Linked DNA regions of Homo sapiens: region 2 is linked to region 1. The links come from fine-mapping of genetic effects on gene expression. Tissue or cell type: whole blood. Region 1 holds a variant in brackets; the other region holds the start of a gene. All regions are shown on one strand. Distances are from middle to middle.

Evidence for each region. PIP is the estimated chance that this variant, and not a neighbour inherited with it, causes the effect.
Region 2: it holds the start of ITGA6, and the variant in region 1 is fine-mapped to the expression of ITGA6 in whole blood (TOPMed, PIP above 0.99). The same link has a PIP of 0.9 or more in macrophages, monocytes, monocytes after LPS, monocytes after Pam3CSK4, monocytes after R848 and monocytes after interferon gamma.

What each region holds. Positions count from the first base shown.
Region 1 is chr2:172,276,010-172,284,116 of GRCh38, forward strand. It overlaps LOC107985960 (a long non-coding RNA gene), which reads left to right. Exons shown (of 6, transcript XR_001739773.3): 2 at 4,728-4,871. Among named protein-coding and RNA genes, the nearest start is that of ITGA6, 150 kb to the right of the region's middle. The variant T/C (reference allele first, on the strand shown) is at 5,048.
Region 2 is chr2:172,423,902-172,432,008 of GRCh38, forward strand. ITGA6 (integrin subunit alpha 6) reads left to right here and starts at 3,685. Exons shown (of 26, transcript NM_000210.4): 1 at 3,685-4,069. The coding sequence starts at 3,888. RefSeq lists a silencer at 3,633-3,712 and enhancers at 4,497-4,997, 6,422-7,621.

The DNA.
Region 1 (8,107 bases):
GTTATGCACATCAAGTAAAATGATTTGTGTACATTACAAAATGAACAGGCAAAATAAATTAATCCAGAGGAGTTACAAATGTATATATCTATATAAGTTTCTAATATTTTCTTCTCACCTTCCAATAACTTATTTTACACAAGTTCTGGGATGCAGGCACCCACTGTAGAGATGACAGATGGTATTAAGAGTGTGATCTAGTGTGAGATTTTCTGGGTTCTGATGTTGGCTCCAGCCCATACTTTTTGTGTGGCCTAGGATTTGTTTCTTAAGTGCTCGGTCTAAGTTTCTCCATGTGTAAAATAGGTTTTATAATAATACTTTCGTTAGGGTTTTAGTGAAGATGGAATGAGGTGATCCATGTAAAGTGCTTAGAAGTCTTCCTGGCATTTGGAAAGAGTGCAATAAATGTTATTATTTTGATTATTACAGTCTCTTCAGAGAGAAAATCACTAACCAACTAAGTATTTAATTTCAACTGTGATGAGTACCAAGCAGGGCTAGTCTAGGATGCCAGGAGGGTGTATTGGGAAGACTTAACCCAGTCAGTTTTGAGCTGTGTTTGGAGTTCAGGAGGGAGCCAGGGTTGGAGCAGGGGCAGAACATTCCCAGCTGAGAAACAGCACCTGCGAAGGCTGAGGCAGGAGAGAACTTAACTCCTTGGGGGAGAAGACGAGGGCCCAGTAAGAGGGGAAGAACACTAACAGGTCCAATAGGAGAAGCAGGCTGGCTGGAGACCATGCAGGTCTTCGTGGGCATTGTATCCATCAAGGATCTGTTACCAAAACCAAAACCCATTTGCAGTCGTTTCAGCAGAAAAAGGAGTTTATTAGAGGATATGAAGATACTTTCAAAATTTCTAGAGGGCCAGAAAGTCAGGCTTGTAGGCCAGCAGGTCAGAACAAGGCTCAAACCAACCACACCCTGGGAGTGAGTCAGAAAGGGTCTCTGCAGCTGCCTCCAAGTCTAGACCCCCTCAGCACAGCTCATGCCATTGTTGCCCCTAGGATCTGGACACACTACTGCCACCCTTTCTAGCAAATGGATTCTGCACAGTTGGCTTGCTCATGGCCTCAATTCCAAATGAAGCTGTTTGTTAGACTATCTGATTGGCAGAGCCTGGGTCACATGGTGAGGTCTAGCTGCAAGGGAATCAGGGAAAGTCAGTTTTCTGGTTTCAGCTGTGGGGAGGTAAGAACCTCTAGGGTGGGAAAGTCCCCAAATATGGGAATGATGTCAAGCATTTTGGGCTTAACTGCTTTCACATCATCACATGGTCTGCTGTGGTCAGGAAGGCTGGAGAGGGGCAGAGAGGGGCAATCATCTTTGTAGAAATAAAAAAGAATAAACAAGCCTCAAATAACCAAACCCCAAACCCAACCATTTGGGAAATTAAGAAATGCTACCTCTTGAAAACTTTGTCCATTTATTTGCAATAAGTCTAACAAACCCTCTCAAGAGGTGGTGCTCAAGGGAGCTGTGCAGTGGGTTTGGATGAATGTGCAACCAACGCTGAACAAACATCCCTATTAAAGGGCGTGTTGTTCCAGGTTACAGTTTCTCTCAAGCTAAGGGCAGATCCTTTCTCTCAAAGACACAAACTGGAAAGCCCTGACTCAGGTGCCCAAATTAGGTTTGTGGGGTGGTGGGTCAAGGATTGGAAGGACCCAACAGGACAGAAGTATGAGATGGAAGCATTTTGGCATATCCAGAGGGAGATGGGTTAAGGAAGCAAGATGAAGGTCGGGCAGAGAAGCTGCTTTCTTAAGAAAAAGCTGACCGGGCACAGTGGCTCATGCCTGTAATCCCAGCACTTTGGGAGGCCGAGGTGGGCGGATCCCCTGAGGTCAAGAGTTTGAGACCAGCCTGACCAACATGGAGAAACCTTGTCTCTACTAAAAATACAAAATTAGTAGGGCGTGGTGGTGTATGCCTGTAATCCCAGCTACTTGGGAGGCTGAGGCAAGAGAATTGCTTGAACCTGGGAGGTGGAGGTTGCGGTGAGCTGAGACTGCGCCATTGCACTCCAGCCTGGGCAACAAGAGCAAAATTCTGTCTCAGGAAAAAAAAAAAAAAAAAAAAAAGAAAAAGCTGCATTTTTTCTTAAAGCAACTCCTAATGAGATCATGATTTTCATTGATACAAGAAGCTGGTTGAGTTGGCAGAGCGTTTTTTTGTATTAATGGAAACAAATTACAGCTTAATTCAGATAATAAATAATGCACTTCTAAACACAAAGCAAAATGTATTAAACAAATGGCTGTGGAATAGAAGGTCAAAATGAAACTGTGGTAAGGTGATTTCTCTGCAGCTCAATATTTTCTGTTTATAGTCTGACTTGGAGCCAAAAATAGGATTCTCATTCAGTTGTATTATTAAAAATAAAACGATCTAGTAAGTTAAAAATGGAAGTCTGATGAATCCTCTAGTATTATGTATATAATATAGGCATGTCAAGAGAGAAAATATTAACTAATTATTTTAATGATTTAATAAAAACCAGAATTTCTTAACTGATTATCTAGCAAGTTAAAAACATTGCACACCACTTAAACGTAACAAACTTTTTCTTATCCACATACCTACACACGCACCACCTGACATCACTTGACTATGTTTTTGGTATCAGCCTCCCTCTGAGACTTGTACTAATTTTATTTCAGTGCTTTTCTTCTACAACGGTGGTTCTTAAACTTTTGGGGAGCTCATAAATCCCTTTAGTATTTGACTGTCTCCCTTAAGAATTGCAGTCTCATCTTACTCCTGCAACAAATTTCAAGCAGTTTCGTGGACCGCCAATTAAACTTCTGCCTTAAACCTCAGCTTTCTCCCCATAAATCATGGCAAAGGGAGACAGGGAGCTCAGGCTGGTGTCGGTGATGACATCTGCAAGGATGGAAAGTCCCCACTGGGACTGCTTGTATGTAGTCCCCTGAAATACTGGATTCAGTGGTGCCAGCTTAATGGCCAGGAGAAGTTTTGTACCAGGAACTAACCGATTAGCGTTTTTTTTTTTTTTTTTTTTTTTTTGAAACAGGGTCTGGTTCTGTCATCCATGCTGGAGTACAGTGTACAGTCTTGGCTCACTGCAGCTTTGGCCCCCTGGGCTCAAGCGATCCTCCCACCTCAGCCTCCCGACTAGCTGGGACTGCAGGCATGCGCCACCAAGCCCAGCTAATTTTTGTATTTTTTGCAGAGACAAGATTTGCCACATTGTCCAGGCTGGTCTCAAATGCCTAAGCTCAAGCGATCTACCCACCTCGGCCTCCCAAAGTGCTGGGATTATAGGCCTGAGCCACTGCACTGGCCTGATTAGTTTTTAATAACTATAGTGTGCTAGGTAGAATGGAGGTGGAAATGGCTACAGCACTGCTGCCTTCTGGTTGCCTGGGACCGTCTGTGTCTGCCCCACCTCCATAACAAAACAGACCCTGCCAGCACCACTACAACGCCTTCCCCCCAGGAATCCTGCGGTGTTAGTGCTTTTGAAATATACATTCTTGTTAAGTTCTTAATGATGAAGAATAGCTTCCTCATTGAGTTTCTACTTCTAAGTATACATATACATTTTGAGAGGAAGGAGCTTTTATGTTTTAACTCAAAGGGTGTCTAATGGCAAAGTCCTCTCTGATTGGTCTGGGCACGGGGGACAGCAATTGGGAGCAGAGTTTGGGGATGGGTCCTTTCTAAAATCCCTAAAACTCCTGAACAGAAGATAGTCATTTAATTGCAAAATTACACATAAGGATGAAAATGAAATACCTTTTTGGAGGATTAACAGGAAATATAAATTTCTGTAAGGAGGTAGTGGAAGTTCTTTTCCAAAGAGGTGTTGTGGTAAGGCTTCAAGGTTTCAGATAAAAAGTCTGGTTCTAATCCTGATTCTGCATTCTACTAATTCAGTGGAGATAGAGGAACTTTAGGGCTCCTCAAAAAGTTCAGGCCTCACTTTGTGGCTTTAAGTTTTGAATATTGCCAATGTAGCCATGGCAGTAATTTTGGGAAAATTTCCAACTTCCTGAGCCCAGTTTCCTCATCTGTAAAATGACACACCTGCCTCCCAGTGTTGTTATGTGGAATTAAGGAAATAATACCTGCTATGTATTTAATCAGGTCTAAGGTTCTTATTTCCACCCATACATTAGAAAGGTCTCTGATATTGGGATGGCATCCAGGGGTCTAGACAACCCCAGTTTTATGGGGCCTGAACTCTATATTATTCAGGGACCTTTATAAAAAAGAGAAAATAATACGTGCAAAATTAGGTAAGAACATGAATATTTGTTTAAATGGGAAAATCACAACAAACCACAAATTTTAAAAAGGTGATATAAATCACAAACAACATAAAATACCATAATATTTGTAAAAATTAACTGCCTGGCCCACTTCTGTTATACTTCTTTGCCCTGCATTTTTGGAGGGGAGTGGGCTGTATGACAATGAATTCGTTATGTCTGTTTTCTATAGAGAGAATAGACAGTTCAGTCTTCCTTCTCAATGGTTGACGAAAATTTATTTTTTACTATCAACAGTAAAATGTGTGTTTTCCAGCTTCACAACTGTTTTTGGTAATGTCATATAAATCTTGAGAGTTTTTTTTGTCAAATTTGGGGAAAACCTCTATGAAGTTTCTTTCCTATATGAACTATGAGATTTGGGAAAATTTTCCACAGACCAAATTCTGGCTCACACACTTCACACCTTGTTTATTTTCTGCTGCCCAGGCCATATGCTGCTGGCGAGTGTGGTGGGATGTATTTATATTGGATACAGCCTGGAGCCCTGCACTGGAGCTTCTTACTGCCAGGAGAGCTAGTGTGGTGGAGGGGAGAAGCGGTGAAGCCATTTCTATCCCAGCATGCCCAGCAGTAAGTTAACTGCACAGACCACATACAAACGTCCCACTGAACCCAGACTAAATGTATCCCCAGCTCAACTTCCCCTTTAATAGGATCCCCAAGTTGCCCATAGCCACTCCAGTGCCACCCACATAAGGGGAAGTGTGACAGAGGGGAAGTCAGAGTGGAAAGAGACAGTGGTCTAA[T/C]TGATTGCAGTTAAAATATCTTTTGCAAATTTTACAAAAATATATGGCCACGTGAACACACTGCTGGCCCCTCTCCAAGAACATTGGAAGGGCCCATGCAAATGAAGGGCCCTGAGGCTGAAACTCTCTTAGCTTCCCAGTAAATACACCCTGGATGGCATCTTTCAATTAATCGGCAGTAGGTTTGCTTTCCTGCTGGGCGTGTTACAGTTGGTGGCAACTTAGATTTGGTATCATATATGTAAAGCACCCCATATGGTGCCTGGCACACACTGGAGGCTCACTAAGTGTTCCTTCCTCCCTTCCCTTAGTGAAAAATCAGCAAACAGAGCTCCATCCCTGGCAGGGGACTATGTCCTTCAAGTGTGTTATTGAAGAATCAGCCTTGTAGAAGTTGATATTCCATTAGTTTGCCTATAAAATTTTTAAATTGCAGTTTTTGAATTTATGGATCTTAGTTCAAGGTCAATAAAAAGTGATTGATGGGTAACCAGCGTGTGCCCAGGGACAGAAGATGTCCTCCTGTTGCTTTGTCAGTGGTCGATGATAATGTACTCGTTTCCAGCCAACCCCTAAAAAGGCAAACCCATCGCTAAGAAACAGAAGAAAAAAGAACAAAATGGACTACACTGTATTAAAGACACCTGAGTTCTGTAGAGGAGAGTTTTCCCAGAATCAGCCCAACACTGCCCTATCACCTACCTGAAGGGCATGTGCCAGACAGTCTGAGCTCATCAGATTCAGGACATGAGGAAAGTTATCTTGGTTTTCCTTTCTACTCTCCCTTCTTCCCTTCACTCTTTCCTTTCCTCCATCTTGTCCACATTTTCTAGACTGCTTACTGTCACTTTCTGAAACAAGAAAAAGATTCCACTTTTCATTGCTTATTAATGCTAAATGACTACCCATTCCCTCGAAGCTATTAATATATATATAAAGAAGTAGGGCATGGAGTGCTGAAATGCAACTGTGTGTCACTTAACAATGTAGATATGTTCTATGAAGTGCATTGTCAGGCGATTTCTTTGTGCAAACATCATAGAGTGTACTTGCATAGCTCTAGATGGTACTGCCTACTATACACCTGGGCTGTGTGGTATAGCCTATTGCTCCTAGGCTATAAAACTGTACAGCATGTTACTGTACTGAATATACCATAGGCAGTTGTAACACAATGATCAGTATTTGTGTATCTAAACATAGAGAAGGTTATGGTATAAAAGATAAAAAATGATATACTTGTAAGGACACTTACCATAAGTGGAGCTTACAGGACTGGAAGTTGCTCTGGGTGAGTCAGTGAGTAAGTGGTGAGTGATTGTGAGGGCCTGGGACATTACTGTACATTACTGTAGACTTTATAAACACAGCACACTCAGGCTACACTAAATTCATTTTACTTTTTTTGAGACAGTCTCACTCTGTCATTCAGGCTGGAGTGCAGTGGCATGATCTTCGCTCACTGCAACCTCTGCCTCCTGGGTTCAAGTGATTCTCCTGCCTCAGCCTCCCTAGTAGCTGGGCTTACAGTTGCCCACCACCATGCCTGGCTAATTTTTGTATTTTTAGTAGAAATGAGCTTTCACCATGTTGGCCAGGCTGGTCTCAAACTCTTGACCTCAAGTGATCCGCCTGCCTTGGCCTCCCAAAGTGCTGGGATTAGAGGCGTGAGCCACTGTGCCTGGCTTAAATTTATTTTAAAACTCTTCTTTCTTCAATAATAAATTAACCTTAGCTTACTGTAACTTTTTCACTTTATAAGCTTTTTAATGTTTTTAACTTCTTTTGGAATAACACTTAGCTTTAAACACAAAGGCATTATACAGCTATGCAAAAATATTTTCTTTATATCCTTATTCTATACATTTTTTTCATTAAATTTTATTATTATTATTTTTACTTTTAAACTTTTTTGTTAAAAACTAAGACAACTACACACACATTAGCCCGGGCTTAATCATCGGGGTCAGGATCATCAATATGTCATCAGGGGATAGGAATTTTCCAGCTCTATTCTAATCCTATGGCATCACCATCATACATGCAGTCTGTTGTTGCCTGATGTCACTGTGTGGCACATGACTGCAGGGGGTGTGGGAAGCCCATTTCTGAGTCAGTTAGAAGGCATATATATTTTCTTCCTTTGCCGTCACTTTACGTTTGTAATTCTGAGGCTCTCTACACGGTTCACTTGGGACTGTATGTTAAGGCTGCTGTTAACTATAAAACAGGTTAAACTGTATTTCAGAGTAGGCATAATTAATGAGGGTGTTATTTCAGGAACAATGATAGGGATTGTGAATAGTCAAGATTCATTCTAGAATGAGCAAGAAATTTGCTGGAAAAAAGAGGTGTAATGAAAAAGGAAGCTTCTTTCTATTTCTGATGAGGAGCTTGGTATGTCTGTAGTTTGATTTTGTAACAATTGTTTTCCCTGAAGTAATTTGGATGCTGCATTAGTCTGATTATTATGATTTCCTGTTTAGAACCCAGATACCTTCTCGATATGTCCCCAATAGCATATTTCTGGAAATGACTTCAACCAATTACATTAGCTCTCATTCCCTTGGTTTCTATGTGGTTGACCAGACAGGAATCAGGCTGCCTGAGTGTGCAATCCAGATAGCAAGAGGCAGTCGGTAGAGAGAGTGTGAAATTGCCCTGAGATACTGTGTGGTCTGCAGGCGGGTCCAAGTGAAGGAATGTGATGCAGCTGAGGCCTCGGGGGTGGGGCCGGGGGGCATATTTTTGATGTCTGAAATATCTTGACCAACTGGCCTTTCAGGGATAATTTTGATGACCATGTTTCATCTGGTGCCGAGTCTACTTCTGGTGCTTGACTCATGAAGGTATCAGTGATGACAAGGATAATGAAATTTATCTTCAAACCTACTCCCCTTAAATGTAGTAGATGTAAGCACTGGGACAAATCTGAAAAGAGTCTTCAGCATCTCCTTAAGGTTACTACTATTATGGATAATAGTGCTGTATCATTTACAAAACCATAGCCATATTGTGCAGCAGGTATTATTATTCCTGTTTTACAGATGTGTAAACTGA
Region 2 (8,107 bases), 150 kb after region 1:
CTAATAACTAGTTTTTATGTTGCATGAAAAAAGCAAATATATTCTCTGCTGTTAGTGATGATGAAGTCAATATAACAGTGAACATGATAACAAAATGATTAAAGTAGGTCTCAGGGAATGGAAAATATATTAGGTATGACATGGATTCTTCAGACTTCTCCATAAATGACCAATATTCTAAAATTATCTTGAAAGCTCTTCTACAGAGGGTGGGATATAGTACAAATAAATAATTTTATTTTGAAAAGTGTACTGGTAAAACATAAGAATTCAAAAGCTCTCACCTGAGCAAATGCCTCTATGCATAGCTTTCACTGCCTTTTAATTAAAAATGTTCAGTTTATAGAAGTTTCTTCTGTGATGTGTTATTTCGTTTTCTAATCGGCCCTTTTTTTTTTTTTTTAGACACGGTTCTGCCAGTTAACTGGATTTGTAGGGCCCTTCTTGCACTGTGCATGTCTTGTTTTCATAGGCATGTGTGCTAGCACACACACACACATGCCCCATGCCCTATATACTCAGCACACCTTTATCACCAAGCTATCTCTCTCCCTTTGGTTCCAGACAAGTATCTTCCTGTCCCAGATTTTGTTTTCCCCATTAAAACTGTGTACTCCCTCCCCAGGTCTTTAATTTTTAGGGCTCTGAATTCTTTTATTCCTTTGGCCCCAGAGATTGATGTGTCCTCAGTGGATCCAGAATGACCTCTAAACCTCCTTTTTGTAAGACACTTTTGTAAAACACCCAACTCTGTTTTACAATGGAAATAACAACTGAGTCACAAAACTTGATTCTTTTTTTTTTTTGAGTCAGAGTCTTGCTCTGTCACCTAGTCTGGAGTGCAGTGGTGCAATCTTGGCTTACTGCAACCTCTGTCTCCCCATTTCAAGTGAGTCTTGAGCCTTGGCCTCCCGAGTAGCTGGGATTAGAGGTGCCCATCATTAGACCCAGCTAATTTTTGTATTTTTAGTAGAGACGGGGTGGTGGGGTTGGGTGGGGGGGAGTCTCACCATTTTGGCCAGGCTGGTCTCGAACCCTTGACCTCAGGTGATCCTCCCACCTCGCCTCCCAAAGTGCCAGGATTATAGGCGTGAGCCACTGTGCCTGGCCAAAACTTGATGGTTATAGTCAGAAGGAGCTGACAATCTTCAAATAAATTATGTCAAGAGTGAGGGTTTGACTCAACTTCAAGTATCTTCGGCATCTATGTTGAGAGTGAGAGTTTGACTCAACTTCAAGTAGGTAGGAGACAGGTGGCAGGTAGGAGCACTGAGCTAATAAGTTTTCCATTTGCGATGGGCACTTGACATATTCCAGAACAAGACTCCCAGCCTTGTTTTTCTTTATCTGAACCTCTTCCCACACAAGCATAATTTGCTTCAGTAGTGCTATACATGTAGTTGTGATATTTAAATTTAATATTATTTAGAATTTCAATTTGAGCACAATCTGTGTTTGGGATAAAGTAAATAACTCTGGCCATTCATACATCATCCACTAAACACATCTTGGGAAGACAGGAATCAATGGTCCACAGAATTACTCTTAGAAGCAAGGGGTGATATTCAGAATAGTTAACAGCTGGTGTGACATGGGGATATCCAAGCAGAGGGAGCCCTTGCTGCATCAGGGCTTAAGGGCTTAAACTTTCATTTGCCAGGTTGTGAGGAAGTTGCTTAGTCCTAGGAAAATGGGCAGGGCAGGGATGGTTGCCTGTGAGGAACTAAGGGCAGCAGCTTTTATCAACCAATTCAGAATATTTCAGTAACCATTACAGCCAAATCACCAGCTCCTGGCTGAGTACACTCTGCAGTGAGGTTCATTATACTATGCCTATAATAGTCTGGACCCCATCTCTCTGGAATAGTACATATTTTACACGAAGGGAAAAGGCTAACTTGCAACTTATTTGCATGAAAAATCACGTTGCAAGTACTTCTTAGTTTACTAGATTGTCTCCAATAGTTTCTCAACCTTATCAAGATATATTTGTTAAAACTGTGTGCTCTCCAAAATCATCTACTGAATTTAAACCACTGCACCCCACTTTGGACTATAATTGACTGGAGTTACTGATTGGAAAGGAAGTGGTACACACCCCTAATATACTGACGGACTTACTCTGACAGCTGCTACCACCTGTGGGGACCCTTGATGATGTTCACGCAGCTTTTCTGAGTGGCACATGCTGTTCTCTTGAATACTCCTTGAGGTGAAGAAGAGGCCACCCCTACCCCTATGCACACACAGCTCCTGCTCTTTCCTGGGGCTGCACCCTGCTTGTATTTCCAATGCAGGGATGTCAGATTCCAAAGAGGGCTCCCCAAGGCATTCCAGAAGGCTTCAGGCCAGCACGTCCCAACCTTTTCATGCCATGGGACCCCTTTGGCAGGCTGCTGAAAACCATGGGGTTCTTCTCAGAATAAGGGTTTTAAATACATAAAAGAAACCACAAGAGGTTACAAAAAAAGCCAATAATATTGAAATGTAGCTAACAAAATGTTTTTAAAAATTTGTGCTAGAGCAATATATATGCTTCATTATTGACATATAATATCTGGCTGATTGTCTAATAACTACTGTTATTTGAGATACTTGCAACAACTGTGATGTGATGTAAAAACCTATGGTTTCTAGTGATTACTAAGTCATAAATACTTATCCTACTGCTACTGTAGTTTGTTGTCTACGTTCATAATGGCAAAACGTGCTAAATGTCAGAGGTTGGTGAAAATTAAGACGTAAATTTTTTCTCATCCAAGTTCACAGTACTCTTGAATTAATTACCTCTCCTCGGGTTAAGAACCCCTGCAGGATAAGGTTGCCCCTAGGGCCAACACCTCACTGGAGCCCCGCCTCATGTCCTGGAGGCAGGAGCCTTCATGCCACCTACACAGAACTCGGAGCTGTCTCTTGGCCCAGCAGTTCTCCCCACAACTAGTTCTGAAAGTCCGGGGCTAGGAAAGAACGGCATCGTCGCCTGAGCTCCTGGCGCCACTTTAAACAACCCATCCTTGACTTGCGTGACTTCTTCCACAAGCTCTCCTGGTCACCTGGGCAAAATCCTAGGTGATCTGGGGACAAGGCGGAACTTCGGTTTTCTGATCTGCAAAAAGAAACACCTACCTCATAGGACTGTTAGGATGAATTGAGGTAATGGCTGGGTTGTGTACATTATACAGCACTATCAAGGTGTGCGCTGTGATCATTTTTGAGGGTTGTTAGGTGTTTGAGGACCCAGAACAGTCTACACAGCTGTAGTCCCCAAGTGTTGGGCACGCCTTAAGCGCTCCATAAACACCTGTAGAAATGAATGAATGACGTATGCATCTGCACGTGGGCCCACATCTGCAAGAACAGGCTGCTCAGGCCATGAGGCCCGGTGCATCACCTGCACTTCTCTTTATAACGGGTAGTAAAGTCTCCCTCGCTCTGTGCTACTCGGCAACCACAATTCTGTCCACAGAGGGCGGCGCAGTGGGGCTGCTTCGCCGCGAGCTCGCCTCCGGGGCTCCCACGTCGTGGCTTCCGGGCAGGTACCGGGCAGCTGGAGACGCCAGAGCCGGCGGGTAAGGTGCGGGCGGTGCGCCGGGCCGCGGGCGCGCAAGGAGGGGCGAGAGGGTGGGGAGGGGCGGGGCCGGCGTCCTCGTCACTTGATAAAACGCCTGCGAGTCTCCAGAGAACAACGGGCTCATTCAGCGGTCGCGAGCTGCCCGCGAGGGGGAGCGGCCGGACGGAGAGCGCGACCCGTCCCGGGGGTGGGGCCGGGCGCAGCGGCGAGAGGAGGCGAAGGTGGCTGCGGTAGCAGCAGCGCGGCAGCCTCGGACCCAGCCCGGAGCGCAGGGCGGCCGCTGCAGGTCCCCGCTCCCCTCCCCGTGCGTCCGCCCATGGCCGCCGCCGGGCAGCTGTGCTTGCTCTACCTGTCGGCGGGGCTCCTGTCCCGGCTCGGCGCAGCCTTCAACTTGGACACTCGGGAGGACAACGTGATCCGGAAATATGGAGACCCCGGGAGCCTCTTCGGCTTCTCGCTGGCCATGCACTGGCAACTGCAGCCCGAGGACAAGCGGCTGTGAGTTCCCAGACCCTTCCCACCCCCACTGGGGCGCCGGCCTGCGCGCGAGTTGAGGCGAGGGCGCGCCCTGTTCCCGCCGGCCCCGGGGAGTAGTTGGCCCGTGGGTCGCGCCCGGGCCGGCCGAGGCGCACCCAGCGCCCAGCGCGCTCGGCTCCCCGCCCTGACCCGCCCCGCGCGGCGCCTCCCTCCATTCAGCTCGGGAAGGAGGAGAACCCGAGGGCTAGGCTGGGCCCCGGGAGAGTTTACTTTTTTTTCTGTTTTAAACAAAGTGCTTTCCGCCGGTTCTTCCCTCCGGGCGTGTTTGCTGGGACCCCGGCAGGTGGCACGCTTTGCTGAGCTTCACGTGTGTGTTTGGGGCTGGGGTGGCGTTCAGGGTCACCGCAGCGCTGCTGTGGGTTTGCAGGGAGCGTAGTTCCAGGATGGTCTAGGCCTTTCCCAAACTCACGGTGCACCCCGTCTCCCCCGCAGACTGGCGCGCCCCGCACAAGTTGGAAAGCCACTTTCCATGTGTCCTGCATGACTTTCTCAGCAAGGCGGGGGCGCTCCTTAGGAGATACTTTTACATGCCTTTGAAAAAAAAAAAAAAAAAGATGGGGGTGGGGGCGGGAATTAACCAAACACCTGTTCGCTGGACTAGATCAGCTGAGAAAACAAGTCTGAGTGATGTGCCCAGCCCCCAAAGTACTCGGCCGCACCCGAGACCCGCTCGGCTCCTGCGTTGGGCGGGCACAGCCAAGGGGTTAAAGCAAAATGTCCGATCTGAGCCTGGACTTTGCAAACAAGGTTTGTAAGGGACAACCCCCCACCGTAGCGGTAAACCTCCCAGGAGAAAGAGGAGACCGGCACTACTGGCCTCTCCTTTTATTTCTTAAACAGTGTTTGGTTCCCACATGATCGGCTATTTAAGCCGGAGAGGGTATTTTGGCGCTTAGTCGCCTTAATCGCTATGGGGTTGCATTCTTCATCTGTGCTACTGAAAAATAGGCTGTAGCAACAAAAGGTCTCCCCTCCCCACCCAGGCCTTGAGTTGAACTAAGGACCTTCCAGGACCAACAGACCGGAGAAAGCAAAGTGCAGCCACAGTGAAGAGATTTTGTGTTTAGGAGAGGCGAATGGGATTTTAGAACTGGAGGAAACCTCTTGATTTCAGCGGTTAACAACTTTGGAATTCGTGAATGTTGCAGCCCCTGAATTTTAGTCAGTTTTTTTTTTTTTCTGATAACACCTGCTAGGTGAAGCACAGAAATTAGCTGGGGGTGGGGAGGCTCTAGGAGGGTGGTCTGAGGCTATATGCCTGGCCAGCTGCTTATACTCTGCTTTCTCTCAGAAATAATTGTTGTTAAGCTGTAAATCTGAAATGAAAGGTTCCTGTTAACTCAGTTAATAGATGACGTTTATTGTCTCGGAATACTTGGTGTGTAGAATTTGAGCTTGTTAGTGCAGAAATGATTGTGGGCCAGCAGAGGGAATTCATTCTCCTGGGCATTCTCTCTCTGCACCAGAGCCCCACTGAAACCGGTGGCTTCCTTGAAATACTTGTTCAAGCAAAAAGTGTGAAGGGAAAGTACTGGGACAAGAAATATCCTGGCAGTGGAGATTTGCGAAACGTGACTTTGCCAGGAATCTGTGTCGTGAAGGTTAGCAGCATGCTTGCTAAAACTTGTTACTGCTGCTGGGCTTCTCTGGTATTAGAGCTGAGGCAACTCCTCCCGAGGTAAGGATAAGCCTGCAATGGGGTCTGATGCCTTCTAGGAAAGCTCTTCTTAGCAGCTGACAGAGGGGAGAGGCCCCGTATAAGGAGACTGTATGTTTCCTAGAGTCCAAAGGCAGTGACCACACTTTAAAGAGGCTGTGGTTTATGTCACGTGCTGCCCACCTCCATGCTTTTGTAAAGCTTTATTCCAGCTTCAGGAATAGCATTGGTCTTCCCAGGAGAACCAGCACACACAGGCCATAGCACAGGTCAGTTGTCAACCTTTGACAGTAAAGAATGTGGGTGTAAATGGCAGAGCCAGTAAGACTGAGAAAACTTCTGGACCAGCTTCCTAAACTCTATGGAAAAACTCAGTGGGGGTCTTTCAGGGACCTGGTGGGAGAGAGACCTAAGCTGAGATTCCTTCTCGGCCTTTTATTAGCAGCTGTTAATTTACTTTGAGCTTTAATTTCTTTATCTGTAAAATGGAGATATTACTGCTTACTGGGGTTATTATGAGGATTAAGAGATAATATGCAAAGTGCTTAATGCCTGTCTGGCATGGGTACTTGCTGACTAAATGGTAGCTGTTAATGATCATTTAAAAAGCAGTAATTGTGTACCTACTGTGTGTCAGGTACCTTACAAGGTGTCTTAAACATTCTGTGATTCTAAGATTGCCTGAGAGTAAAGCCAAAGGTGGTTGTTTTTGGGTAATGATATTTTAAACTCAGTCATATTTATGAAACCCATGTTCAAAGCAACTTAACTTTAATAGGTCTTAATTAGACTTATAACAAAAGTGAGTTTAATGAACAGAGGACTTTGAGGAAGGAGAAGTAAAATATCAGATGCATGGGACGGTCAGATAAAAGCACGATCATAGAAGACCTATCATAAATGTTTGTAGTTCAAATTTTCTATAGTGCCTTTAACTATTCAGTCACATTTTAAACTCCAGTTATGACTTTTGCAGAATAATATTGTGTCAGAGAGCCCCAAAACATGTCGGGTGTTCCTAAAGCTTTGGAGACTATAAAATTGAAGTAGATACCATAAACTTCATCCAGGTTTTCAGGCTGTATATTAAAGAAGTTTCGGACTCCAAAAGATTACTCAATGGTCAGCCAAGTTGGTCCGCCGAGTGACTGAGGTCAGGGTCTGAGCACCTTGGACTCTTTAATTTCTCTTAGGTAGTTAAGATTGAGTCATTCCCAGAGGTGGAAGGTATGTGATGATGACTGTGGGTATATCCAGCCTATGAATCATCACTCTTAGCTCTTCTGGGAAGAGATGGATCTATATATGATCACAGGGAAGAACCTAGAAGAAGGAGATCTATAAGAGATAGTCTCATGAAGTCATTTTGGATTTCTGCCAACCCTCATTTTCTTCTTTATGGGGTCTCTCTCTCTGACCACCACTGTCTTCCAGAAATGCTCCAGGCCCGCGGTCTGTTCTGTTCTGACCCTTACTAGGTTTGTTCTTGACTTTTCTCAGACTTGTCATGTTCCATCTCTTAAAATCATATTTTCTGAACTAGAGATCATCTAGTCCAACTGCCTCTTTTTACAGATGAAGAAACTGAAGCTGAAAGTTCAGCTTGAGCAGAATCTTAACAGAATGTGGATTTGAATCTCTGACCCATGCTCATGCCATTTTTAAATGGAAAAGCCAGAAATGTTCTTCAGACCTAGAGAAATCGGCAAGCATCTGAATTTTGGAAGTGTACTATATTGTGTTGATTTATCAAACTGCTTCCCATATGCATAGGTCAGGGCTATCTATTTAAATATTGGTGCCTGGACTCTTACTATTGACTCTATTCCAGCTGGCCTTGGAACAAGTTCTGGGTCCGTCCTTCTTTGCCTGCCTCCACCCCATTCCCTTCTGAAAAAGCCCAGTGAAGTGTGGCTGTAGCTAGCCAAGAATCAGAGCTGTATTCAGGATGTGTACCTAAGCACTTGCTTCCTTGCATTTATTCACTCGGAGTGCCATGTGGCCCAGGGCCATCTTCCAGGGATTGCTGGGTCACCTTGAATGCTAAGAGTAGAGAAAAAGCCAAAACGGGCAGCGAGACTTACAGGAAGTCTTAGGACTCTGCAAGAAAGCAGAAATAGGCAAGTTTAATTTTAACACAGGCTGGTGTGAGACCAAGTAATGACAGGGTTGGGGAAAAAAAGGGTCAAAGTATTTATATGGTATAAATAATTTGTTGGGGAAGTCAGGATAAATGCTTATATAAAAGGATTCCTTTATTATAAAGAAGTGGTTATTCTGTGTTCTCAGTTATATAGACTCTCTTAGCATAACAATATATTGAGATTTAATTTAAGCTTTCA